Homo sapiens: one gene and its partners. The protein of the gene in region 6 purifies or fractionates together with the protein of the main gene of each other region. This does not show direct contact. Each region holds a gene or a part of one and is shown on either strand. Other genes may lie near its edges.

Evidence for each region.
Region 1: the proteins of LANCL1 (region 6) and DERA purify together in Homo sapiens (affinity purification with mass spectrometry; 3 studies listed by BioGRID and IntAct, with this or other methods). This does not show direct contact.
Region 2: the proteins of LANCL1 (region 6) and TBC1D9 purify together in Homo sapiens (affinity purification with mass spectrometry; 3 studies listed by BioGRID and IntAct, with this or other methods). This does not show direct contact.
Region 3: the proteins of LANCL1 (region 6) and IPP purify together in Homo sapiens (affinity purification with mass spectrometry; 3 studies listed by BioGRID and IntAct, with this or other methods). This does not show direct contact.
Region 4: the proteins of LANCL1 (region 6) and TBC1D9B purify together in Homo sapiens (affinity purification with mass spectrometry; 3 studies listed by BioGRID and IntAct, with this or other methods). This does not show direct contact.
Region 5: the proteins of LANCL1 (region 6) and RANGAP1 purify together in Homo sapiens (affinity purification with mass spectrometry, with the first as the bait; one large-scale study listed by BioGRID). This does not show direct contact.
Region 7: the proteins of LANCL1 (region 6) and UBN2 purify together in Homo sapiens (affinity purification with mass spectrometry; 3 studies listed by BioGRID and IntAct, with this or other methods). This does not show direct contact.

The regions. Positions count from the first base shown.
Region 1 is NC_000012.12:15,914,332-15,917,831, forward strand, and holds part of DERA (deoxyribose-phosphate aldolase), read left to right. Parts: exon of another isoform or gene 1-1,985; intron 1,986-3,500. UniProt on the Homo sapiens protein: Catalyzes a reversible aldol reaction between acetaldehyde and D-glyceraldehyde 3-phosphate to generate 2-deoxy-D-ribose 5-phosphate. Participates in stress granule (SG) assembly.
Region 2 is NC_000004.12:140,753,586-140,757,828, forward strand, and holds the start of TBC1D9 (TBC1 domain family member 9), read right to left. Parts: upstream 2,801-4,243; 5' UTR 2,461-2,800; coding exon 2,331-2,460; intron 1-2,330. UniProt on the Homo sapiens protein: May act as a GTPase-activating protein for Rab family protein(s).
Region 3 is NC_000001.11:45,744,154-45,747,653, reverse strand, and holds part of IPP (actin-binding protein IPP), read left to right. Parts: intron 1-1,192; 5' UTR 1,193-1,242; coding exon 1,243-1,534; intron 1,535-3,500. UniProt on the Homo sapiens protein: May play a role in organizing the actin cytoskeleton.
Region 4 is NC_000005.10:179,869,898-179,873,397, forward strand, and holds part of TBC1D9B (TBC1 domain family member 9B), read right to left. Parts: intron 3,352-3,500; coding exon 3,222-3,351; intron 3,094-3,221; coding exon 2,995-3,093; intron 1,634-2,994; coding exon 1,565-1,633; intron 599-1,564; coding exon 358-598; intron 1-357. UniProt on the Homo sapiens protein: May act as a GTPase-activating protein for Rab family protein(s).
Region 5 is NC_000022.11:41,276,188-41,279,687, reverse strand, and holds part of RANGAP1 (ran GTPase-activating protein 1), read left to right. Parts: intron 1-1,670; exon of another isoform or gene 1,671-1,792; coding exon of another isoform or gene 1,793-1,805; intron 1,806-3,500. UniProt on the Homo sapiens protein: GTPase activator for RAN. Converts cytoplasmic GTP-bound RAN to GDP-bound RAN, which is essential for RAN-mediated nuclear import and export. Mediates dissociation of cargo from nuclear export complexes containing XPO1, RAN and RANBP2 after nuclear export.
Region 6 is NC_000002.12:210,473,960-210,477,961, reverse strand, and holds the start of LANCL1 (glutathione S-transferase LANCL1), read left to right. Parts: upstream 1-1,202; 5' UTR 1,203-1,342; intron 1,343-1,549; coding exon of another isoform or gene 1,550-1,565; coding exon 1,566-1,646; intron 1,647-4,002. UniProt on the Homo sapiens protein: Functions as a glutathione transferase. Catalyzes conjugation of the glutathione (GSH) to artificial substrates 1-chloro-2,4-dinitrobenzene (CDNB) and p-nitrophenyl acetate.
Region 7 is NC_000007.14:139,234,237-139,237,736, forward strand, and holds part of UBN2 (ubinuclein-2), read left to right. Parts: intron 1-2,768; coding exon 2,769-2,861; intron 2,862-3,500.

The DNA of each region.
Region 1 (3,500 bases), on a different chromosome or scaffold from region 6:
GAATTGTGCCACTGCACTCCATTGGGCAACAGACTGGAGACAGACTGTGTCTCAAAAAAGATAAAAAAAAAAAAAAAAAAAGAAAAAGTCTGTTGAATGAAGGAATGAATTGAGAGCTGCTTCTTACTTGGGGGAACTGGGGAATCTACCTGGTCCCCGTGTATGGTTGCATGGACAGATGCTGTGAAGCTTGGCACCTTCTTCCTCTTTGTAAGTATTATTAAGATTCAGTTTTGTTACATCCGTCTTCAGAGCTATCTCAAGAAGCCTATAAAGGATGTAGATAGTGTAACTTCCTTGCAAATGTTATCTTTGGAGGCGTCTGGAGAATGCGGGTGTTATTAGATGACTTCTAAGGATCTCCCTGCTCTGTCTCTGTGTGTCTGAAAACTCTTCTGTTCAAAAAGCAACATTTCAAAGATATCTGAAAAATAACCATGATGGGATTTTGTATTTTTTTTCGAGACAGAGTCTCCCTCTGTTGCCCAGGCTGGAGTGCGGTGGTGTGATCTTGGCTCACTGCAACCTCCGTCTCCCAGGTTCAAGCAATCCTCCTGCCTCAGCCTCCCGAGTAGCTGAGATTACAGGTGCCTGCCACCAAGCCCGGCTAATATTTTTATATTTTTAGTAGAGACGGGTTTTTGCCATGTTGGCCAGGTTGGTGGGATTTTTTTATTTTAAGAAGCACATTTATTTAGGTAGTTATTGAGTACCAATCTGTACTGGGTAGTATTACCCTAGGCTGGGGGTACAAGATAATCAGGGATGGTCACTGCCTTCACAGAGCTATTAATCGGTCTGGTTCAGGACCTGGACATCAAGCTAGAGCTACAATTAAATGCAAGTGTGATGTGCAATTATTTTTCATTTATTTTTGTCTAAAATTAGATAGATGTACCTAGACTGTGCTTTAAATGGGTTGTGAAAACAGAATGTCCTGGGCCTTTTGCATTATAATTTTTAATTTCCTTTTAAAAGAACCTATGAATTAGGGATTTAGGGAGCTCATTTTTGGCATTCCTGCTAAAGTATAACTTGGGTACAGAATGTTTCTGATTTGGGTGATGGTGATTTTCCACTGCAAAGTTAACGTTTAATTTTTGGAATGGATATTTATTTATTTATTTGTTTATTTATTGTTTCAATAGAGACCGTGTGTCAGTATGTTGACCAGACTGTTCTCAAACTCCTAGCCTCAAGTGATACTCCAGCCTCTGCCTCCCAAAGTGCTAGGATTATAGGCATGAGCCACCGTGCATGGCCTAGAATGGCATCTTAAACCTCAACAATAGGCAAAGGCTATCTGTTTGCATAATAATTCTTCACCTTATTTAATACCTACTGTGTGCAGACACTGTGCTTAGGTGCTGGGTATAATGATAGTGTCAACACAGAGCTCTAGCTACTTGTAAGGCACTATGCTGAATGCTTGAAATTCTCATTTAGTCCACAATGGCCCTGTGAGGGAGATAGCATGATCCAGGTTTACACACGAGCAAACTGAGGTACAGGGAGTTTTAAGTAACCTGCCGAAAACCAGTTAGGTATAGCTAATGTGGCAGAGCCAGAATTCAAGCCCAGGTGATTTGGTGCTAATAATGCTACATGCTTAAACAACCACACTGTGTCGACTGGTGCTAACTGGGAGCACTACACCCTGATGTCAGAAGAGTCAAATAGATAACTGGTGAATACTGTTAATGTTACTCTTTTAGGTTTGATTTGTCTGTTTAAAACATAAAGGTTACTGTTTTATTGCCATAACCCACATCTTAACCATTGCAGTTTGTTTCAGAGAAGATGCAATTTATCCTGAGGGAGAATGGAAAAGTCCAAACTTTGGTAGATTATGAGAGTAGGGTTCGATGTTAGTGAAGTTTTCAAGGATGGCATGTCAAAACCAGACTTCCTCAGGAACTGCTTCATGTGGATATACTGATGAGCCTCAGAGCATCATGTGATGGTGACCAGGGAGTGACCTCAAGGTGAATAGAGTGGGGCTTTTCTTTGTGTGTGTGTTTGTTTTCGTCTCTTGCAGTTTTGTAAAACGTTACCTTTCATACTCCAGTCTTTGGGCTGGCCTCAGCTTCTAGGTTTAAAAACCAATACTGTTTCTTTTTTTTTTTTTTTTTTTTTTGAGACAGAGTCTCACTCTGTCACCCAGGCTGGAGTGCAGTGGCGCCATCTCGGCTCACTGCAACCTCCGCCTCCCGGGTTCAAGTGAGCCTCCAGTCTCAGCCTTCTGAGTAGCTGGGATTACAGGCATGCGCCACCATGCCCAGCTAGTTTTTGTATTTTTAGTAGAGATGGGGTTTCACAGTGTTGGCCAGGCTGGTCTTGAACTCTTGACCTCAGGTGATCCACCTGCCTCGGCCTCCCAAAGTACTGGGATTACAGGCATGAGCCGTCGCACCTGGCACAATCCTGTTTCTTGATGTATTCTTTTAAAAAATGTTTAAAATAAGAGATGGGGTCTTGCTGTGTTGCCTAGGCTGGTCTTGAACTCCTGGGCTCAAGCAGTTCTCCCTCTGTGGCCTCCCAAGTGGCTGGGACTATAGGCTGTAGTCAATGTGCCAGGCTCTTGTTCTTTAGGTTAAAAAAAATTAAGTAGAAATAGTGAAGTATTTGATAATTTTGTTAATTTAGAGTGACTTTTTTGTCCCGAATTTCTACGTCTGGAGTTTCTCTTAGTAGTTTCCTGAAAAATAGAACTGGAATCTCTTTAGCTGTAAACAAGATAAACAGTTTAAGGAATCTATGGGTCACAAGTGAGAAGTGACCTAATACACCTTACAAAGTCCCCATATTTCTTTTATTGAGATAGAGGCCTTTAAATTTTGCCTTTAAGTTAAAAAAGTCAATTCCTAGTGAAAAAACAAAAACAAAAAACTAAAACATAAGGCAGTGTATTCTTCATTAGGTGGCATATGAAAATTTGACTCTAGCTCTTAGCTCAGGTGGTAAGAGAATTTAAAAATTTTTAGATTTCTGCAGGGAATTTCCCAACTGGAGTTAACTTGAGGTTTCTTTAAACAATAAAATTGATTTGTGTAATTTTAAGTTAATGTGGGTTTTATGTCTGAATCTAATTTTTTTCTCTTTAATATTTAATACTTAACATACATATGTTACTTTAGATTTCATAGAGTGCTTTTCTAACATAATCTCTTTTAATTCTCCCAGGAATCCATTGTGCTAGGCATTATCATTCTCATTTCATGGATGAGAAAACTAAGGCTCAGAAAACACAAGTAACTTGCTTATTATACCTCAGAGCTAGTAAGAGTTGAGGTCAAGACTCAAATGCAGAACTTCTGATTACAAGTTTTTTACCCTTTGCTTTACACCAACGGTCCCGGACCTTTTTGGCACCAGGGACTGAAGTGGTTTTGTGGAGGACAGTTTTTCCACAGACTGGGGTAGGGGTGGGTGTTTCAACAAGGTATTTCTGGCTTATCTTATAATTTCCCTTTCCCAGCACCAAAGTCAGCCAGTTCTCC
Region 2 (4,243 bases), on a different chromosome or scaffold from region 6:
CTGCCTCTGGTTTGCCTTACACCAGTTCAAATAACCATGCCTCTATTTTTCGAAGTTGTCTTTTCACTCATCTCTCTTCATTTGGATTCTGTTTTCTGCTGGGACTCTGTAGAGTGGCAATTTTACTTTAATTTATGTGATTATTTCATCAATACCTGTCTTCTACTAGGCTTGAGCTTCACAACATTAGCACTTCTAGAAGTTGCCAACAAATATTTGTTAAATGATTTAGTGAGTTAGTGAATGAATGAACTTACATTAGAATCAGAATATACTACACATTGTGTAACATTTCTAAAATGTTCCTGCTACATTTGACATGGCACCAAGGTATTAGACCAAACATTTTACCTCTCTTGCTTGAAAATAGCCTTTGTTGTCATAAATACTTTTACTCATGACAATGATTTCAATTATTCCATTAATAAGTGCAATCACTGTGATTTCTCAATTTACAAGATGTAATTTTACCTAAGTGAAAGAAGTCATTGATGACAAGATGAGATTTCAAGTGGACCGTAGTCAGTTATAGCTCTAAGAACCAGTAGGAACACAATACAAATGTTAAGCAGAAAAAGAAGGCTCTGAATCCCTGAATTTTTCACATCCTATTACAAATGACACAGGTAAATGAATACTTAATGCTTACAAGGTGTAGGAGGGTTAATTGCAGAAGGAAATGTTCTCTTTTTACTACAATAAATTATCTACTCTGTGTTGTTGTCCTAGGCTTAAAGGACTACATGGGCCGGGTGAGGTGGCTCACGCCTTTAATCCCAGCACTTCGGGAGGCCAAAGTGGGCGGATTATTTGAGATCAGGAGTTCAAGACCAGCCTGGCCAACATGGTGAAACCCCATCTATTAAAAATACAAAAAAAATTAGCCGGGCGGGTTGGTGCATGCCTGTAGTCCCAGCTACTCAGGAGGCTGAGGCAGGAGAATCACTTGAACCCAGGAGAAGGAGGTTGCAGTGAGCCGAGATCACGCCACTGCACTCCAGCCTGGGCGACAAAGCAGGACTCTGTCTCAAAAAAAAAAAAAAAAAAAAAAAAAAAAAGGACAATGTGGGCTGATTCCAATATTAGATATGTAAATTACATATTAACATTTAGAGTTAGATAACTTCTACAAAATGACCTGGAAAATCCTGGTATCAGATCACTAGTAAGTATTTCCAGAATGGGGTCTGGAGCTCTGCAGATTTATCTTTTCTGGTAGAATCAAGATCCTTCAAACATACCAGTATACATTGTACCACATGACACCTGAATTTTAATCTTAAGAAAATTAGTTTATAAATATAATCATAAGTAAATACATATATCAAGAATCTTTATTTCATAGCACAGCATTTGAAAGCAACAATTTACCTATTGTGCAAACTCCAGGTGATATATGAGGTTGATATAAGCTCAACTCTGAGGAGGGTCAAAGTTCATCTCTTTTTTGCAGTCTCCTTTCTAGTGAAACCTCTACTATTTCTTCTGCTAACTTTTTCACTGTAAAAAGTATTCCAGTTCTGTTCATTCTAAATAACACAGAGATGGAGAAGGTCCAATTTCTCTAGTATGGTATGAGTTCGAGATTATTTCTAATATGGCACTACTTTGGATATGGGTCTGACTGATCTTATTATCCTGAATGATATGACATGGCTTCAGCAACAATTACAATAATACCTTGAAGGGAGGGGGTTTAGGGAAGAAGTGATTGAGCAAAAATAGTTAAAATGCAGTTATACAGCCAATTATTTTTACAACTAGAACCAGACAATTTGCTTTGCTTTATGTCTAATTAGGTGAAACAAAAAAATTCCTGTTTCCGTATTCATTCTCTTCGGTCATAACTCATATAGGAAATGACCACATCAGTTCCTTACTTATCGCTTCCCTGGAAACAAAAGAGCATTTTATACCTGATCCTGCTGTTGCCAGTAAAGAAAGTGGAGCAAAAATTAACCTTCTTCCATCCCTCTTTTCCATTTGGAAAACAATATTTTTAAGGGGGGGAGGGGAAGGGAATGATGCATTCAATATATAGGGGATAATACATTCCCTCCGCCCCAGACTCACTCTTTCCCATTCTCCTCAACATATCCACTTAAAGAGCGCTCAGTACGCTGAGGGCCCCAAGCCTGACAGAGTCAAAAAAAGAAGCATCTCTGCCCAACCTGAACATCACGACTCTCGATGCCTCGCATACAACGAGGCAGGGCGGGTCGCCCAGCCCCAGGGGACCGGGCGGCGTCTCCCGAGCCTGCAGCCCAGGCCGCGGGCGGCGCCGCAGCGCTCCCGGCTCCCCTCCTGCAGGGATCGGCCACGGTCCTTACCCGCCAGTCCGCCGCCGCCGCCTCCATCGCCGGCGTGGCCCTTCCTCCGCTGCAGGATGAAGTATGGGTTGGCCCTCTCGGTGATCCACAGCGCGTTGGCCAGCAACACCTCCTCCGGGTTCACCCACATGGTCCTGGCTGCCGCGGGCGGGCGCACAATGGGCCCGTGGGTCCAGTCCTGCACCCACCACCGCGACAGGCGCGCACTCCTGGGCACACGCGCGCCCGCCCGCCCGTCCGCTAGGTGCGGCGGCGGCGGCGGCAGGCGACTTCAGGGGGTGGCCCGCGGCGTCCGGGCCACAACAAAGCCCCAGCAGGCGGCCCGGGAGGACGGTGAGGACGCGGGCGCGGCAAGCAGCATCCTCCCCGCGGCGTCGCCGCCCCGCGAGAGCCCGCGGCCGCAGACGCCCGGCCTGGCACTCTGCAGCCCGGCTCCCGGCCCACGGCGGCGGGAGGAGCGGGAGGAGGAGGAAGAGGAGGAGGAAGGGAGCGGGAGGAGGAGGAAGTGGTATAGCTCAGTCCCGGGATCCGGCTCAGCGCCAGGCAGGGCTAAGGGCCACCCGAGCGGATTCGGCCCCGCGGTCAGGGCCAAGCTGGGCTCCGGCGCTGCTGCTCCCGCGGCGCCGACTGGAGCTCCAGAGCCCCTCCCGTCTCTACCTGCTCGAGCTCCCGAAGTCGCCGCGCCTTAACGCGCCGTGTCGGGGCCGCAGGCGCCACTAGGGAAGCCCAGCTCCCCGCTGGAAGGACGCTCCGGACACTGCGAATGAATGACGACAACGCGGCTCACTTGGAGCGGGTCCGGGTTTGTGCGGACTCGGTACCACCGCGGGCTCCGCGCGCCGAGCTGAGCAGCTGTGGCTGGCTTCGGGGGAACCTTCGGGGGAAGCTCCTGGGGACCGTGTGCCAAGCACTGGGCCCGACGCCCATCCCAGCAGGGAGGACGCCGCCAGCCTGCGTGGGTGCGTGTGTGCTGTTTGTGTTTAAGGTTGACGCTCTATGGGATAGCGCCACCCCTTTTCCCAGGAAAAGTGTTTCAAGGTTCCAGACCTGGAGCTCGGTTAGAGACCCGGGGTCGGAAGCCAACGCAGCCAATGGTCGTCGATGTTTTTGTTTCCTGCATCCCCAGGGCAAGTCATGCGCTAAACTTGTCACCGCTTGTGACCCCTCCCCCCTCTCCATTCCATTGTAATTAAAGTGGCCTAGCTAAGTGCATTACATCACTTCTTTCCTTGACCTGTAGGGCGTGAGCAATAGAGAAGTTGGAAGCGGCCCAAAAGCTTAGACCAACTAATTCACACCACAGCTGTTCCTATATCGCATTTGGGGCTTCGAAAACTGGGCATGGCAGAATTTTAAAATTTATCCACTCTTGGTAGATGGATTTTTTTTTTAATCAGTGAAACCAGAAACACACAAACCAGGGCAGCTTTATCCCTAGACAGTTTCAGTTTCCCCAAATACTTCGAGCTTCCAGTGGTGATCACAGCCCATCTGCCTACATATCTGATGACCATTTTTTTTTCCTCCCGCCCAGGAGATCTGGAGGATAGTTCAGCCAAAAAAAAAAAAAAAAAAAAAAAAAAAAAAGTTCCTCTTCCCAAATGATGGGAATTTAGCAGACTCTGCTTTGTTGTGGATGCTGGGCAATCCTAGGGACTTTTCCCTTTCCAAATGAGCAGAGATTCAAATGAAACCTTCTTGTGTGGGCTTCAAAATTGTGACTTTTGTAGCTCCGACTTGAATTGTTGAATTCCTTCAATTAGTCGAATGAGCAAATCACCAGCCATTCTAATGAGACTGCCATTTCATCTGTTCGCTTCCTACCGCTTGGGCTCTCAAGGAATGGAAGTTTCCCTTGATGTTACCACACAGACTGATCTGCTTCTTCCAGGCATCAGTGGAAACCTCATGTA
Region 3 (3,500 bases), on a different chromosome or scaffold from region 6:
GTTTTGTCATGTTGGTCAGGTTGGTCTCGAACTCCTGGATTCAAGTGATCCTCACGCCTCAGCATCCCAACGTGCTGGGATTACAGGCGTGAGCCACTGTGCCCAGCAGTTTCTTTATTTAAAAAGTAATTTAGAACGTGTCCGGTGGCCTAATAATTCCTATGCAGTGTGATATGGTGGAACAGTCCTGGATTTAGAGTAAGAAGGCCTGGATTCAGATACTGAGACTGTCATACTAACATTGTATCCTTGGGGAAACTTTGAGCTTCAGTTTCCTTTTCTCTCATTTTAGATAAGATTATCTTTTCTTCTCACCTCTTAATTATTGTGAGAGTTACCATTGACATAATATGTGGAGAAGTTAAAAGTTAAAAAAAAAACCCAACCTAAGCTGTTGTTATTTCTCCTTGTTCTCATTCATTTCACAAACATTGGAAACCTAACATATGTTATATACTGGTGCTAAAGCTATGAAAGATAGTACCTGCCTTTAAAGGGCTGTGTTTCAAGGAGCTCTGAAGCGCGCGCGCGCGCTCGTGTGCGCGCGCATGCGCGCACTAAGAGTAGGGTGGTAGGGTATTTGATAAGGTAGACCTGTGCTATAGAATGTAAAACCAATAAGCTTAGGGTGAGCAACAAACTCAGATGAGTTTGGGAACATATTTCCACAATTCCAGAGGAGCAATGGGGAAAGGTTCCTGGAGGAAGTTATATTTGAACAGAGTCTTAAATTATAACAAGAATCCCGAAGGGCTTTGTGTGCTACGGGAAGTGTACACATTGAATGATTTTAAGCAGTTAGACTGATCACAACTGCTTTTCGAAAGTTGCTGTTGTCTGTGATGTGTGCTCTGTGATGTGTGCTTTGTTAACTTTCTGTCTTTGTGTTTTATTATTATTTTTTTTACTCCATCAAGAAGTGTCCTCTCCTCATACCTTAATATTAACTGTTTATCTTTCAGTTTCTAGTGCAGGTCCCATTTCTTGTGTGAAGCATTCTCCAATTATTTTAGCTTCCCTACTTATTTCATTCTCTGAAACCATATTAGAAATAGTAATAGTACCACACTTTAGTCCTTATTTGTTTTATGTCCTTAAGTAGATTTTAAGTATAGAGAATGCTTCTTATGTGTGAATAGAAAGCATGTTAAAAAAATTTTGTTGCTTGATCTCTTTGTATTTTGTTTTTCAGGGTAGTAACAGATTATGGGCAACAGTCCTTTTAATTAATCTACCGTCATCATGGCTAATGAGGACTGTCCCAAGGCTGCTGATAGTCCTTTTTCATCAGATAAACATGCCCAACTCATCTTGGCCCAAATCAATAAGATGAGAAATGGACAGCATTTCTGTGATGTGCAGCTGCAAGTTGGACAGGAAAGTTTTAAAGCTCATCGGCTGGTTTTGGCTGCCAGCAGTCCTTACTTTGCAGCTTTGTTCACTGGAGGAATGAAAGAGTCCTCAAAAGATGTTGTACCGATTCTAGGAATTGAAGCAGGAATCTTTCAGATACTTCTAGATTTCATTTACACAGGTATGTTACATGAGTCTGTTGCTTTGACTGAAGAATGATTCAATCACTCATGCACTAATGTGGAAATATAAATTGATCTAACTTATCTAGAAGGTAATTTAGCAACATGTTATTATGTGACTGAAAATTCATATCTTATGACCCGGTGCTCCTTTTCTAGGAATCTGAAGGAATTAATTAGTGATGCAGGCACATATTTACAAACCAGGATTTTATTGTAACATTATTATTATTATTTTATTTTATTCTTTTTTTGAGATGGAGTCTCTCTCTGTCGCCCAAGCTGGAGTGCAGTGGGGCGATCTTGGCTCATGGCAACCTCTGCCTCCCAGGTTCAAGCGATTCTCCTGCCTCAGCCTCCTGAGTAGCTGGGACACAGGCGCATGCCACCACACCTGGCTAATTTTTTTTTTTTTTTAATTTTTAGTAGAGACAGGATTTCACTGTGTTAGCCAGGATTGTCTCGATCTCCTGACCTCATGATCCGCCCGCCTTGGCCTCCCAAAGTGCTGGGATTACAGGCGTGAGCCACTGCGCCTGGCCTGTGACTTTATTTATAGTAGTATATAATTGAATAAAATCTTGTCTCAGTAGGTTTTATGGCTAAATAAATTATGATACATGTATAGATCTCACAAATGAGATCTAACAAATCTTAAAATATATGTATACTATTATGGAAGAATGTTTACAATATATAAAATTTTAAAAATCAGGATATAAATAAACCCCTATTTTGTTTGAAACACAACCCAAAAAAACTTATATGTATTTACACATGAGAAAGCAGCCAGAATGTTTGATAGCATTTATCTGTAGGTAATTTTTTTCCACAAAGTGTTTATAATCAGCATATGTTATTTTACTCAAAACTATCTCTTAAATGTTTTTGAAGAGTTTTAATAACATTAGAGAATGTACACAGGGGCACAGTGGTTCATGCCTGTAATCCCAGCACTTCGGGAGGCCAATGTGAGAGGATTGCTTGAGGCCAGGAGCTCAAGACTATGCAGGACAACATAGCAAGACCCCATTTCTAAAACAAAAAAAATTTTGTTTGAGACAGGGTCTCTCTCTGTTGTCTAGGCTGGAGTGTGGTGGTGCACTCACACTTCAATGCAGCCTTAATCTCCTGGGCTCAAGTAGTGCTACCATCTCACCACCCTGCATAGCTGTGACTACAGGTATGTGCCACCATGCCTGACTAATGTAAAACAAATTTTTTGTAGAGACAGGGTCTCACTACATTGCCCAGGCTAAAAAAAAATTTTTTTTTTTTTTTGAGACAGAGTCTCGCTCTGTCACCAGGCTGGAGTGTAGTGGCGTGGTCTCGGCTCACTGCAACCTCCGCCTCCCAGGTTCAAGTGATTCTCCTGCCTCAGCCTCCCGAGTAGCTGGGACTACAGGCACGTGCCACCATGCCCAGCTAATTTTTATATTTTTAGTATAGACGGGGTTTCACCATGTTGGCCAGGATGGTCTCGATCTCTTGACTTCGTGATCCACCTGCCTCGGCCTCCCAAAGTACTGGGATTGCAGGCGTGAGCCACTACGCCTAGCCAAAAAAAAATTTTTTTTAATTAGCTGGGTGTGTGGCTTGTGTCTTTAGTCCCAGCTAACGGGAGGCTGATGTGGGAGGATCCAGGAGTTTGAGGCTGCAGTGAGCTATGATCAAGCTGCTGCACCCTGGACTGGGAGACAGAGTGAGACCCCATCTCTGAATAAAATAAAACAACTGGAATGATGAAGAGGGGAGTAGGGGAAGGGGAAAGAAAGAGAAGGCACACCAAAACGATGTATAGTCTTACAGGATATGCAATAAATATGCATAGAAAAAAGATTTGAAAGGCTGAGATGGGATGATCACTTGAGCCCAGGATGCTGCGGCTTCAGTGAGTGATGATCATGCTACTGCACTCCAGCCTGGGCAACAGAACAAGACACTGTCTCAAAAAGAGAGAGAGAA
Region 4 (3,500 bases), on a different chromosome or scaffold from region 6:
CCGAGTAGGACCCTCTTCACAGCCTGTGCTGCCCAACTCCCTCCTGGAGAGGTCACAGGGTGAGTCCCAGATCTCCTGTCTCCCTGGCGTCCTGCTGGGAAGGCTCAGCCCTTCCCTGGGGCTGGCAGACCAGCTTCTAGCAGCCCCAGACTGCATGAGGGAGGGGAGCGGGCAAGGCTCCTGCTGGACCCCATCTCGGCTCCCGTGGGTAAACTGTTCTTCCCGTATCTAGGGCCAGGGGCTCAAGCTGCCCCCTACTTGCTGCAGGGGGAACAGACAGGAGATGCTGGCATTTGGAGGCTTCCTGGGAAAGGGTGAGGGAGGGTCAAGCCCCTGGTAGGCCCTGCAGGCACTCACTCATCCCTGTCACGAACTCCTTGAAGTTGATCAGCGAGTCCTTGTTTTCGTCCAGGAGCCTGAACATGCGCCCTGCCAGCAGAGGTGTGTGGGAGCCACAGGCCCAGGGTGTCAGGCTGGCAAAGAGTTCCCGGAACTGGCTGGCATCAATCCGGTACTGCTCCAGGTAGGGCAGGCTGGGGTCCCGACGGCCGGCCATTGTGCGGCTGCACCCCCAGTACTGGCTAGCCAGGTGCTTGGCCTGTGGGACACGGTCTGGTGAGACGGTCCAGCCGCTAAGCCTGTGGGTCGAGGGGACCCCTAGGCTGGTGGTGTGTCCACCCTCCCCCTCTGTCCAAGCCTGCGGAGCCCTGGGGCGGTAAGCACGGGCCAGACACTGCAGCACCTCCCGAAAGCTCTCAGGCTGTCATCAGCCCCTTGTTAACAGATGGGGAGGGGGTTGGCTGAGAGACAGAGTCCTTGGCAGCCTGCAGGGGGCAGAGCTGGTCTGCTGGCCCCAGAGAAGGGCTGAGCCTTCCTGGCAGGGCTCCAGGGAAACAAGAGGCCTGAGGCTTGCTCTCGCTCCTATGACCTCTCTAGGAGGCAGGCAGAGCTGGCTCAACTGTTGTGACGCTAGGGCCACAGCGCAGCAGCCACCTTGAGCACGGAACCTGAGGCAGCTGGAGAGGTGGACGGGAACTGGCAACAACAACAGAAAGGCAGATTCCAACCATTAAGGCTGGGTCTTTTGCTAAAAGCACAAGGGAAAGAAAAATTCTCTTTGCACTGGGATTACTGAGAAGAGAGTATGACCCTGGAGCTGTGACGACAGTCCTGGCATGGTGTAGGAAGAGCAGTGCAGAGGACATCAGAGATGGGGAAGCCTGACGGCACATTTCAGCACCTGGATCCAGCCATGCCTGAAGCTGTGCATTGCTAGACTTTTCAGTCTAGCAATACAGGGGCAATGTATTCCCTCTTCTGTGTAAGATGACTTGAATGGATTTGCTGCCATTTAAGAGGTCCTGCCTAAACTCCAAGAGGGATTCGATTCTACCACAGGAGGTTCATGGCAACTGCATCTGAGGATGCACTTAGATCTGTTTCTGTTTTTCTATTCTATTCCCTATTTCTATCTACTTCTAAGAGGATACTCTTAGATCCATTTCTTTTCTGGCAGGAAGCTAGGAAGCTAGGAACGGGTCCTGCCCTGGCTCTGAGCTGTCACCTTAAACACCATGTAAAGGTCCTCCAGCTCTTCAATGGAGAAACCAATGTCCACAGGTATAGCTCGGACCTAGAAGGAAGGAGAAACAGGGTATATAGCTGGATCACAAGCTCCTGGCACAGAAGTACGGCACTCTGTGAGAGCATCCTCGGCAGACAAGGGCAAGGGTGTGAACCGCCCTCTCAGTGGCCCAGCACTCAAGGGCGGACCCTTCGGGAGAGAGCGAGGCCCACAGCCCATCCCTGGCCCCCCACCTACCACTCAGCTCACACTCCGGGCTCCTTTCCAGGATGGGCGTGGGGGAGTCTCTCTCTCACACTCCGGGCCCCTTCCCAGGATGGGCGTGGGGGAGCCTCTCTCTCACACTCCGGGCCCCTTCCCAGGATGGGCTTGGGGGAGCCTCTCTCTCACACTCCGGGCCCCTTCCCAGGATGGGCGTGGGGGAGTCTCTCTCTCACACTCCGGGCCCCTTCCCAGGATGGGCGTGGGGGAGCCTCTCTCTCACACTCCGGGCCCCTTCCCAGGATGGGCGTGGGGGAGCCTCTCTCTCACACTCCGGGCCCCTTCCCAGGATGGGCGTGGGGGAGCCTCTCTCTCACACTCCGGGCCCCTTCCCAGGATGGGCGTGGGGGAGCCTCTCTCTCACACTCCGGGCCCCTTCCCAGGATGGGCGTGGGGGAGCCTCTCTCTCACACTCCGGGCCCCTTCCCAGGATGGGCGTGGGGGAGCCTCTGTCCTCAACGTGCAGCTGAGGTCGCAGAGTGAGGGATACTCATTTGGCTCCCGTCATCTGGATCCCTGCAGAGACCCTGGTGCCAGCTCTGTGGAAGGAGGCCGAGAACCTGCCAGCCAATGCTCCTGTACTTTAATTGGCCAAAGCAGTCAGTCTGTGGTGCTGCGACCCAATGTCCTTACAGTGTCCTACAAGCCTGCAGGAGGGCTGGGAATGTGGAAACAATGGAGGAAGTCCCTGCCTTTGGGGGCAGAGACCACAAACAGGTCTTGCAGCACAGGGTGGCAGGGAGGGCCTGGCCCCTCTAGAGATGAGAACAGCAGCTTGTGGCAGACACATGCCATTTGGGGTGTGCGGAGGATGGCGGCATGTTGCTACCTGGGAGTGGGGCAGGGAACACATGGGAAGCCAGGCTGGGCGGGCTCGGCCCAGAGGGCTGGGCATGTGGCTTTCAGGGTGGGAGCCATCTGAGAAGCTTCCCGGTGACACATCCACCAGCAGAGAAAAGTGACTGGAACCTCTCCCCACATTCCCACCTACACCCCTGGATCCCGGTCCCATGAATCCTACCATGATGTACATACCAAAGCAGTGTAGGAGACTGGGTGCGGTGGAGCCCTGTACCCACCCTGCTCTGTGGGGAAGGCACTGCTGCCCCCCCAGCCCAGCCCCTGCCCAGCCCTGCTGGCACCCATACCACACTCCTCTTGGCCGTGTCCTCCAAGGACTGGATCACTTTCAGCCTCTGTTTAAACCGCATCTGCTCAATGTCTTCGGCCCTCAGGCTGCTGAATTTCTATAGGGAGAGGTGACTTGGTGAGATCAAGCCAACTGCAGGGCAGAGGGCCACCACCTGCCCATAGCCACCCCAACCCACATGCCAGATGGAGCGGCCTGGCCAAAATGGCCCCACTGGGTGCTGACCTCATAGGACACTTTCAGGAGCTCAAAGATGTCCACCTCTGCAGGGGGGTCATCGCTGCTGCTCAGCAAGGCACGGAGGTGCGGGATAGGAGGAGAGACACTCTGCTTGTTGACCACATTATCCAGGTATCTGCAAAGGACAGAGGACAACAGTCCAGACCACGCCCAGGCAGAGGGAGCCTCCTTCCCACAGCTGGGTGATGCGGAGGGACCCAATCTTTATGCAGACTCCTAATAAGGAGTGTGCAGAGGACTGGGCACCCTGCAGGAGGGCAGAGG
Region 5 (3,500 bases), on a different chromosome or scaffold from region 6:
TGGGACTGCAGGCTCACACCATCACGCCTGGCTAATTTTTTTTTTTGAGACATAGTCTTGCTCTGTTGCCCAGGCTGGAGTGTGGTGGTGCAATCTCAGCTCACTTTAACCTCTGCCTGGGTTCAGGCAATTCTCATGCCTCAGCCTCCTGGGTAGCTGGGACTACAGGTGTGTACAACCATGCCCAGCTAATTTTCTTTTCTTTTTGTTTTTTTTTTGAGATGGAGTCGTGCTCTGTCACCCAGGCTGGAGTGCAGTGGTGCAATCTCGGCTCACTGTAAGCTCTGCCTCCCTGGTTCACGCCATTCTCCTGCCTCAGCCTCCTGAGTAGCTAGGACTATAAGCACCCACCACCATGCTCCGCTAATTTTTTGTATTTTAGTAGGGATGGGGTTTTACCATGTTGGACAGGCTGGTCTAGAACTCCTGACCTCAGGTGATTCGCCCGCCTCAGCCCCCAAAGTACTGGGATAACAGGCGTGAGCCACTGTGTCTGGCCTTCAGCCTATTTTTGTGTTTGTATTTTTATTATTATTATTTTTTTTGAGACGGAGTCTCGCTCTGTTACCCAGGCTGGAGTGCACTGGCATGATGTTGGCTCACTGCAGGCTCCGCCTCCTGGGTTCATGTCATTCTCCCACCTCATCCTCCTGAGTAGCTGGGACTACAGGCGCCCGCCACCACGCCCGGCTAATTTTTTTGTATTTTTAGTAGAGACGGGGTTTCACCGTGTTAGTTAGCCAAGATGGTCTCGATCTCCTGACCTCATGATCCTCTCACCTCGGCCTCCCAAAGTGTTGGGATTACAGGCGTGAGCCACCGTGCCCGGCCCCTTATTTTTGTATTTTTAGTAGAGACGGGGTTTTGCCATGTTGGCCAGGCTGGTTTTGAATTCTTGACCTCAGGTGATCCGCCCACTTTGACCTCGTTTATCACTTTTGATGCTTGCGTCACCCTTGTGGGAGATAGATTGGAATGTTGCTGTTTTATAAATGAGAAAAAGGAATTTAGGAGACTTTAAGTAACTTGACCAAGGTCACACATTTGATAAATAGCAGAGCTAGGATTTTCACAGAGGTTCAGTGAAATCCCTATTCCTGTGCTTCTAATTAGACATTGAGCTCCGTTTAGGAAACAGAGATTTGATGGCAAATGCCATTTATTGAACACCGTGTCAGATAAGGGTATTAAGTGCCAGATAAATAGTATCTCAGTTTATCTTCACAAAATCCTTTGAGATAGATTGCATTTCCATTTTGCAGATTGGAAAACTGAGGTTTAGGGAGGTGGTATGACATGCCTAAGGGCACAGCTTTAATGAGTAGAGCTGGGATTAGAACTCAAGTTTGGGCCAGGTGCGGTGGCTCACGCCTGTAATCCCAGCACTTTGGGAGGCCGAGGTGGGCAGATCACCTGAGGTCAGGAATTCCAGACCAGCCTGGCCAACATGGAGAAACCCTGTCTTTACTACAAATACAAAAATTAGCCGGGCGTGGTGGTGGACACCTGTAATCCCAGCTACTCTCCGGAGGCTGAGGCAGGAGAATCGCTTGAACCCGGGAGGCGGAGGTTGCAGTGAGCCGAGATGGCACCACTGTACTCCAGCCTCGGTGACAGAACGAGACTATCTCAAAAAAAAAAAAAAAAAACTCAAGTTTGGCTGGCTCTGAAATCCATCCAGTTAACTTCTTTACTCTCCCAGCACAGGCTGAATGTGGTGTCTCCCATTTTGTAAGTCCCCAGGGGTGCCCAGCTTACCCAGCTCCTAAGAAGCAGCAAATCTGGAATAGGAATGATATACCCAGGTAACTAAGTGAAGGCAAAATGTGAATATACTCTATGAAAACAAGTGAAAAGGCTCTGGGAAGTAAGGCAGGGAGAGGTCTCACTTTTACTTTAAGAGCACCCAGGAAGTCTTTTCATCCCTTGCCAAGGCTTGGCTGGCACTGACCAACCCTGAATCCCCTGGCATCTGGAAGTGAAGGTACCCGCATCAGTGAGCCATCCTTGGGTTCTGGCCCAACCAGGGAAACTTGGACCCACCTTGGACAACTTCTTAGGGAGCCCCTGCTAGGTTATAAGTCCTTTCTCAAGACCCTTCTTGACCAGAAGGTCAAGTTCAAACTTTATCTCCCATACCCATCTCTATCTCTTCCCTCCCACATGTCACCCTACTCCATCCTGTACCAGCCAGACTCAACTTTTTGTTTCATGTAAGTTTTGGTTTTGTTCAGATTATACAATTAATGCAGGTTTATTATAGAATACAGAAACATTCAAAGAACAGGGAAAAAATATATCCTCACTTTCGGCCGGGCGCGGTGGCTCACGCCTGTAATCCCAGCAGTTTGGGAGGCCGAGGCGGGCGGATCACGAGGTCAGGAGATCGAGACCATCCTGGCTAAAACGGTGAAACCCCGTCTCTACTAAAAACTACAAAAAATTAGCCGGGCGTAGTGGCGGGCGCCTGTAGTCCCAGCTACTTGGGAGGCTGAGGCAGGAGAATGGCGTGAACCCGGGAGGCGGAGCTTGCAGTGAGCCGAGATCCCGCCACTGCACTCCAGCCTGGGCAACAGAGCGAGACTCCGTCTCAAAAAAAAAAAAAAAAAAAAAAAATCCTCACTTTCATATAACCCCAGGGATATAACTACTATTACTTTCAGGGCATTTTATTTCTAACACAGTCTTTTTTTTTTTTTTTCTGAGAAACAGTCTCGCTCTGTAGCCCAGGCTGGAGTGCAGTGGCAAGATCTCGCTCACTGCTACCTCCGCCTCCTGGGTCCCAGTTCAAGCAATTATGCCTCAGCCTTCCGAGCAGCTGGGATTACAGGCATGCGCTACCATGCCCAACTAATTTTTGTATTTTTAGTAGAGACGGGGTTTACCATGTTGGCCAGGCTGTTCTTGAACTCCTGAACTCCTGACCTCACGATCCGCCCGCCTTGGCCTCCCAAAGTGCTGGGATTACAGGCGTGAGCCACCGCGCCCAGCCTAGTCTTTTTTTTTTTCCTGAACATAGCTGAGTTCATTTTGTTTTGTTTGTTTTTTGAAACGGAGTTTCGCTCTTGTTGCCCAGGGATTAGTGCAATGCCACGATCTCGGCTCACTGCAACCTCTGCCTCCCAGGTTCAAGCAATTCTCCTGTCTCAGCCTCCCTAATAGCTGGGATTACAGGCATCCACCACCACACCCGGCTAATTTTTGTATTTTTAGTTAGAGACAGGGTTTCATCATATTGGACAGGCTGGTCTCAAACTCTTGACCTCAGGTGATCCTCAGGCCTCAGCCTCCCAAAGTGCTGGGATTACAGGTGTGAGCCACTACTCCCAGCCCATTTTGTTTTTAATTGGGATTATATTATAGATCTTTTAAAAGCTGCTATATAACCTGATATATTGAGAACATTTTACTTCAAATAGTTAAAAACACACAATCACCCATTATCCTACCAGCTAGAGAGAACTGCTATAGCATTTGGTTTCTATGTTTCTAGACCTTGT
Region 6 (4,002 bases):
AATTACCATCCTGCCTTGCTTAACAACAGTAATATTTAATTGCTTAAAGACTGTGAGTGGGATAAATGGATAGCCTTTAATCATTAAAGAAAAAATAATTGATAAAATGTCTCTCGTTTTCCTTTTCTCTCTTGTGAGTTGCTCCTTCAAACACCCATCTTTTAAAACATGAGAGATATCCAGCTTAAGACTCACCATGGGCCTCGGCTAAATCTTCATGAATTTGATGAGGTTAAGAAAGCAACTACATTTCCTAAGAAAGCAACTATTTTAAAAGAGCAAACCTGGGTGTGGGGAGGGATTAGGAGTAGAGTTTGGGATGGCAGCCTCAGAAGGACAAACTTAGGCCAAGGAGGGAGGGAGTTGGGGTGGAGACTGAGCTTCTCCAGTTGGAGGTCTGGAGCTAGGACTCTTCATTGAAACCGGAGAGAAGGAAAAGGAGAGAGTGAGGCTGACTTTTTAACTGAACTCCAAAATTCTCTGAGCAATAGAATGGGCCTAATATGTACCAGGTGGGATTTAATTTTAAATGAAAGAAAAATGTTTCAGATAGCAGGGACTGTTAAAACATTGAAATTGAATGTTGTGGATCTCCTGCTGTGTTGGTTTTCAGTATTTTTTAGAGCTTTGTTATCCAGTATTATAGTCCAATTTAGGCTAAGGAACAGAATAAATTTCCTAAGAGCTGTAATTTGTGTTTTCATGTGCTTTCCCCAAAGTATTATCAACTGCTATTTGATATCCTGTCCTTTGGGCATATTTTTGTTGTTGTTGTTGTTAATGATGGTGGTGCTTTTTTGTTTGTTTGTTTTAAGAAATGAAAAGAAAAGATTGGCAAGTCCCTGGAGAGACATTATCCCCCCACCCCCCGCCAAATTTTATCTATTGCGAACAGCAGAAATACCAGCATGTTCAGATCTAAAAGCAGTCTGTTTCTTCTCCAGGTTAAAAAAATATATACTTCTTATGACTCTGGACTTAAATTTGACTTTTTAAAAATAAGAAAAATTAAAGAAGGGTAGGAAATATTGGTCACATCTCCGCGTGATTCTAGGTCCTCACTTCTGCTACCCAGTAATTAAAATACCCTGCGTTATCCTTTAGAAATTACACGCCTGTGTCTTTAACAAACTGTAAGAGAGAAGGGGGCGGGTCTCGGGAACGGCGAAGGCTCTGATTGGCCCTCCTGGCAGGAACTGGGCGGTAAAATAGCCCTTCTGTTACTGTCCGGGGCTGCGGGGTGAGAGGCCAGGGCCGAGAAGGGCTTCAGGACGCGGGAGGCGCACTTGCTTCAAGTCGCGGGCGTGGGAACGGGGTTGCAAAACGGGGCCTCTTTGTCCGGGTGGGTTAAGGGCCCTGGCAGCTTTTTCGCGAAGGCGCCATGTCCTAGCAGTTGGGCCGCAGTGGGCCCGAGGTCCACTCGGACCGCCGAGACGGCTCGATGGCCCTGGAGCTGGAGGAAGGGGGATACCTGGGCGCCGCCGCCGCCCTCGCAACTCGGCCGAGGCCCCTATCTCAACCTAGTTTCTGTTTTTCCCCTGTTCTGCAGGCTTGCTTCCGGCGTCATGGCTCAAAGGGCCTTCCCGAATCCTTATGCTGATTATAACAAATCCCTGGCCGAAGGCTACTTTGATGCTGCCGGGAGGGTGAGTTTAGGATATGTCTGCCTGCATCCCTGCCTCTCCCCACGGTGTTCGGAAAGGTGCTCATTTTTGCCTGAGAGAGTTGAGCATCCCCCTTTAAAAAAATACATGATTCGACGATAAATACGTAAATTATTTAAAAATACATGTTAATATATACAAATTGAGCTCTAACATAATGTTAAATGTGTCATTGTTAACATTATTAATTGAAATAAACTCAATTATTGATAGTATAAATTTTAAAAATTGGCAAATATGTAGTTTACTATGTAATTGGCATTTTTTAATGTATTTTGGTTTGCTTCTTAAAAAGAGGTGAAGAATCCTAACGGTATTCACATGTGCCGTGTTACTCCTTTGTGATTATACACAAGTGCGTTCAGGGTAATGATGAGAGCAAACGGTGGTGTATGGTAAGGACGTCTTTAAACTGTTAGTGCTTAGAGAATTTGGGGACCTAGGAAACCTGAAGTTCTTTGTACCGGTGTCACTCCACAGGGCATATCCACAGCTGGAAAACAAAAAAAAAGAAACTTGTAAATTAAACTGGTTAGCATGTCACAAATCACTGTGCAAAAGAGAACCTGGATGTAAAATACTAGGGGCCTGTGTTTTCTCATGCCTCATTGGGTGAACATAATTGTTAAGAGGGAATACAGATATTTTTAAGAATACCTACTTTTGGCTGGGTGCAGTGGCTCACACCATTAATCCCGACACTTTGGGAAATCAAGGCAGGAGGATTGCTTAAGGCCACGAGTTTGAGACCAGCCTGTGCAACACAGCAGGACCTTATCTCTACTAAAATTTTTTTAAAAATTAGCCAGGTGTGGTGGAAAGCTTGTAGTCCCAGCTACTTGGGAGGCTGAGGCGGGAGAATTGCTGGAGCCTAGGAGATTCGAGGCTGTAGTGAGCTATGATTGCACCACTGCACTCTAGCCTGGGTGACAGAGACCCTGTCTCTAAAAAATAAAAAAATAAAATTTAGTTTTGAAAATGAGTTAAGTTGGAAACAAGGCACACGCTTTAAAAATTTTACCAGTTTATTTCTTTGAAACTTGTCAGCCATACAAAAGACATTTTATGTGATATAAAGGCCTTACAGATTTCATCCCTGTCAAATTAATCTGTGGGTCTGATGGTTGTTTTTTTCCTTAAAACACTTGTCACATTATAGATTAACTTGGGTCAGTAATGCAGGTAGGAGGAATCAAAGAGATGAAGAAGAGGTGTAGGGTAGAAGGCTACCAAAATGTATATGGAGTTTGAGTCAATCTGATTATTTTAAGACTAGTATTAAGCTGCCCAAACAAAGCTTTTTATAATTATCTTCAGGTCAGATGGATTCCCTTTGGCCATTTGGGCCTGCATTCTGCTTAGCTGTGCAGATTCTCAAGCTGAAGTATGTGTCTTGTCTTGCGGGAGGAGGACTTGCTGCTTCATACTGACTTGGCAAAGAGAACAGTTGAGGATTGTCCTAGTGACAGAAACCTTCAATAAAATGTACCTATTTAGACTGCCTATAAAGTAAATGCTTTTTATGAATTTAACCCTTTATTTATTTATTTATTTATTTTTATTTTTATTTTTTTAGACGGAGTCTCACCCTGAGCCCAGGCTGGAGTGCAGAGGCACAGTCTTGGCTCACTGCAACTTCTGCCTCCCAGGCCCAAGTGACTCTCATGCCCCAGCCTCCTGAGTAGCTGGGATTACAGGTGCACACCACCGCACCTGGCTAATTTTTTTTTTTTTTTGTATTTTTAGTAGAGGCAGGGTTTCACCATGTTGGCCAGGCTGGTGTCGAACTCCTGACCTCAAGTGATCCACCCATCTCAGCCTCCCAAAGTGCCGGGATTACAGGTGTGAGCCACCATGTCGGGCCAAATTTAACCCTTTGTTTCTAAGGGGAAAAATTCACAAATTTAAACCCTGACCCAAGAGTAATAATGTAGTTTATTGCCTAACGTAGTTTTTGGACAGGTCCTAGAAAGGAAGTAGCATACCAGTTCTAAAATTGTGTAATGTTGAACACGGAGGATCAAACCCTGGAGATCTGTCCTCCTTAATTTCTTAACACAAGATTTCAGTAAGGAACTGGTCTGTTTTCTGGCATCTGTCAGAAAAAAATAGAAAAGAAAAAAGGACTTTTAGAGACTTCAGATTATAGCTAGAGTTTGAATGATTTGGTGGTGTACCACAAGCAATCAATATTCTCACAGAGGTCACCTTTATTAAATGCAGAATGTGCCAAACAGAAAGTAACTTCCCTTCATAAGGCTGAGAGATTCTCATTATTCTTGATCTCTTGAAGGCCAGGCAAGATGATAAATTATATATGATCTATATACAGTAGATG
Region 7 (3,500 bases), on a different chromosome or scaffold from region 6:
TATCACTAAATAAGATTTTAGCTCCAGATGCTGAAATTGGTAGATGTGGGGCTATTAAAAAAAAACAAACAACAAAAGGTGTGTTACATATGGATACCATTCATGTGGGTGCATTTAAATCAGTTCCCTTCTTAAATACTAAATGAACAGTAAAACCCTGATTTACTGGAACATAATCAGAAATTTTTCTATGCTCTATTTGTATTAATGAGGAAAGCACAATTAAATAATTTATGTTGGGAAAATAGGAAAAACAAAACCACAGGTTAGCTAAACCTTTAACCTTATTGTCTCTAGGCAGTACAGTGCTGTGATTGAGATGGTTTAGGATGATGACTGGCATTGGAATCATCTCTATCCTGAAAGATTAATTTGGTCACCATTTCTGGCTAAAGGGTAATAGTGCATTTTAGAAATAAATTTTGGCAATGATTGATACACAAGAAAAGGTTTAACTCTTAGTAAACCAGAAAAATCAGTTAACCAGAACACCCATTTGTGAACATGCTTAATTGAACATTTACTGTAAAAAGAAAAATAAGTGATTAAGTGTGTTAATGTAACTATACTATTTGAGAATTCCATGGTATTTCATTGTTTGCGTATTTTTGATGAAATTTGTGAAAGACCTCCTGAAAATGGTGTTGATGAGTTAAGATCAAAGGACAAAATTATTGCATCAGTTTTGCATGTGGGTAGTTGATAATTTTCAGATTTTTTTTCACCTGAAAAAACAAAAAAGCTTAATCTTGATTGGGGGAGGGTGTTTATTCTTAACTGTGAAAGAAAAGTGAGTCCATTTTCTTAAATTTGTTTTTGTAGGCTGTCAAGAGAAAATAAGAGCTGTACTTTTGATACCTACATAAAATACATAAAATATTTTAGAATGGCATATAAGGTGATTCTTATTAAAAATATAGATCCATGTGTTTATATTTATACATATAAAATGAGTCATACCATAGTAAGTATTTGGGCTTCACAGTGCAAGAGGGAGCAGTTTGTAATAGGCATGGCGATTGCTTACTGTCCTTAACCTGAGCCTCTGGTTAAGGCTACACCCTGGACATGCCTAGGATTCCTTATTAGTTTATTCTCACTAGTTTATTCCCTTTTGGATCATGTTTATGTTTTTCATTGGTAAATTTTTATTTTTATTTTATTTATTTATTTTTTTGAGATGAAGTCTCACTCTGTCTCAACCAGGTTGGAGTGCAGTGGCGCAATCTCAGCATCTCAGCTCACTTGCAACTTCCACCTCCCAGGTTCAAGCGATTCTCCTGTCTCAGCCTCCCGAGTAGCTGGGACTACAGGCGTGTGCCACCACACCCAGCTAGTTTTTGTATTTTTGGTAGAGACGGGGTTTCACCATGTTGGCTAGCCTGGTCTTGAACTCTTGACCTCAGGTGATCCACCCACCTTGGCCTCCCAAAGTGCTGGGATTACAGGTGTGAGCCACTGCGCCTGGCCTTTCATTGGTAGCTTCTGTTGGGGTGAACTATTCTATAAATTTATTACTTATTACAATAATTTTAAAAATTGATTTTAAAGTTAACTCCTTTAAAGAAGTATCCCTTTATTCTAATGTCCCAAGTGTGAGGAATTGTCTCGTATTCATTCTGTCCACATTTTTCTATCATGTTTTTTAGACCGATCATGTCTCAGTCTTTATATCCAGGATGAAGTGTCTCAGTTTCAAAGTGTGCACATCTTCCTTCTGCATTTTTTCTTGCTCTTCAGGGTCCATTGAATCTGTATCAATATTTCAGTTGTAGTATACCTTCCTTTTTAAATTACCTGAGTCAGTTGTCTGAAATTGGATAAAAGTAGTATTTTTATCCTTGTTTTGGTTTTTTTGTGCATTGAAAACCATATATATGTTTGTATACTAAAATAGAAGACTTAAGGATGTGATCGCTATTTTTGTTTGTTTTGTTAAATAGATGGTTAATGTGAGCTTCTAGCTCTGTGTGTGTGTGTGTGTTAAACCATGTATTATAATAAACTTTCACTCTCCCCTACTAGAAGAAAGGCATGGTAATGTAATCTTTTTGCAGCTATTTCTCTTTTCTAGCTTTGTTTAAAAGTAATGTGTATTCCCTGAATGGATATCCATTGACAGAATATTGGTGATACAATGGTTGTTGATATTGGACCTCAACAGAAAGCCTTAGCCGCTACACACACTCAGTGTTAACTCACAGGCAGATGGTTGAAGTGTTGCTTTTAATTAATAATCTAGAGCTCCTTTTAGAAGCATTTCCTGATCAAAGCAGTTAATCTTTGTTAGTGAAGATATCAATCTAGAATTATAAGTGAGATTTTCATATTTAGCTAGTGTTCCTGGGGATTTTTTTTCTTTGTTATTTTGGATGAGGTGACCATGTGATCATTTTGCAGGTGAAGACAATTTGGATTGTTGAGTTCTTACTCATCAAAACACTGTGAAATGTATATGAGTCCATTATAACTGTAAATTTTTTTTGCTATGAACCAACTTTTTTTTTTTTAGTTTTAATACTTCTGACTTACTTGTTAGTATTAGGAAAAGTTGTCTCGTATTGGTTAAATTTAAGATATAGTCTCTGAGTAATAATATAATTAATTATATAACATGTTATATATTCTCACTAGTTTATTTCCTTTCAGATCACATTTATTGAAATAGAATTGAAGTGGTTGTTACATAATGATAAATAAACAAACAATAATAATATTTGTAATACTAATGGATACTTCTCTTTCTTTTCCCATTCACCTTGAATCAGAAGAAGCTCATTCACACAGAAGACCCATTTAATGATGAACATCAGGAGAGGCAAGAGGTGGAAATGTTGGCTAAGAAGTTTGAAATGAAATATGTGAGTATAATAAACTGATCACTTAGGTAATTTTATCCTATTGACCTGTTTGCTTTCTGTGGCTGGTTGGGAGGGCCTATAAATATCCGTTGCCTGCCTTACTTTGTTCTCACCAATGGAAACCAAATGAATGGTTAGACAGTCAAATAAAGATTCCAACAGGCTTGTGATAGTTAAAGTAGCCATCATTCATTTTTATTTTTATTTATTTATTTTGGAAACAGGGTCTCGCTCTGGTGCCCAGGTTGGAGTGCCGTGGTGCAGTGTTGGCTCACTGCAACCTCCGCCTCCCAGGTTCAAGCCTTTCTCATGCCTCAGCCTCCCAAGTAGCTGTGACTACAGGGGCAACACCACACCCAGCTAATTTTTTGTATTTTTGGTAGAGACGGGGTTTCACCATGTTGGCCAGGCTGGTCGTGAACTCCTGACCTCAAGTGATCCATCCTGCCAAGTAGCCATCATTTATTATAGTCTTTCTAGAGTCTGGGCGGTTTGCTTTACATATATTATCTCCAATCTTTGTAACAAAACCACAAGCTAAGTAATATTGACCATATTTTACAGATGAGGAAACTGAGGCTCTGAGTTCAAGATTAAGTAGCTGATACAGTGTCACACAGTGGCAAGAGTAGGCTACAG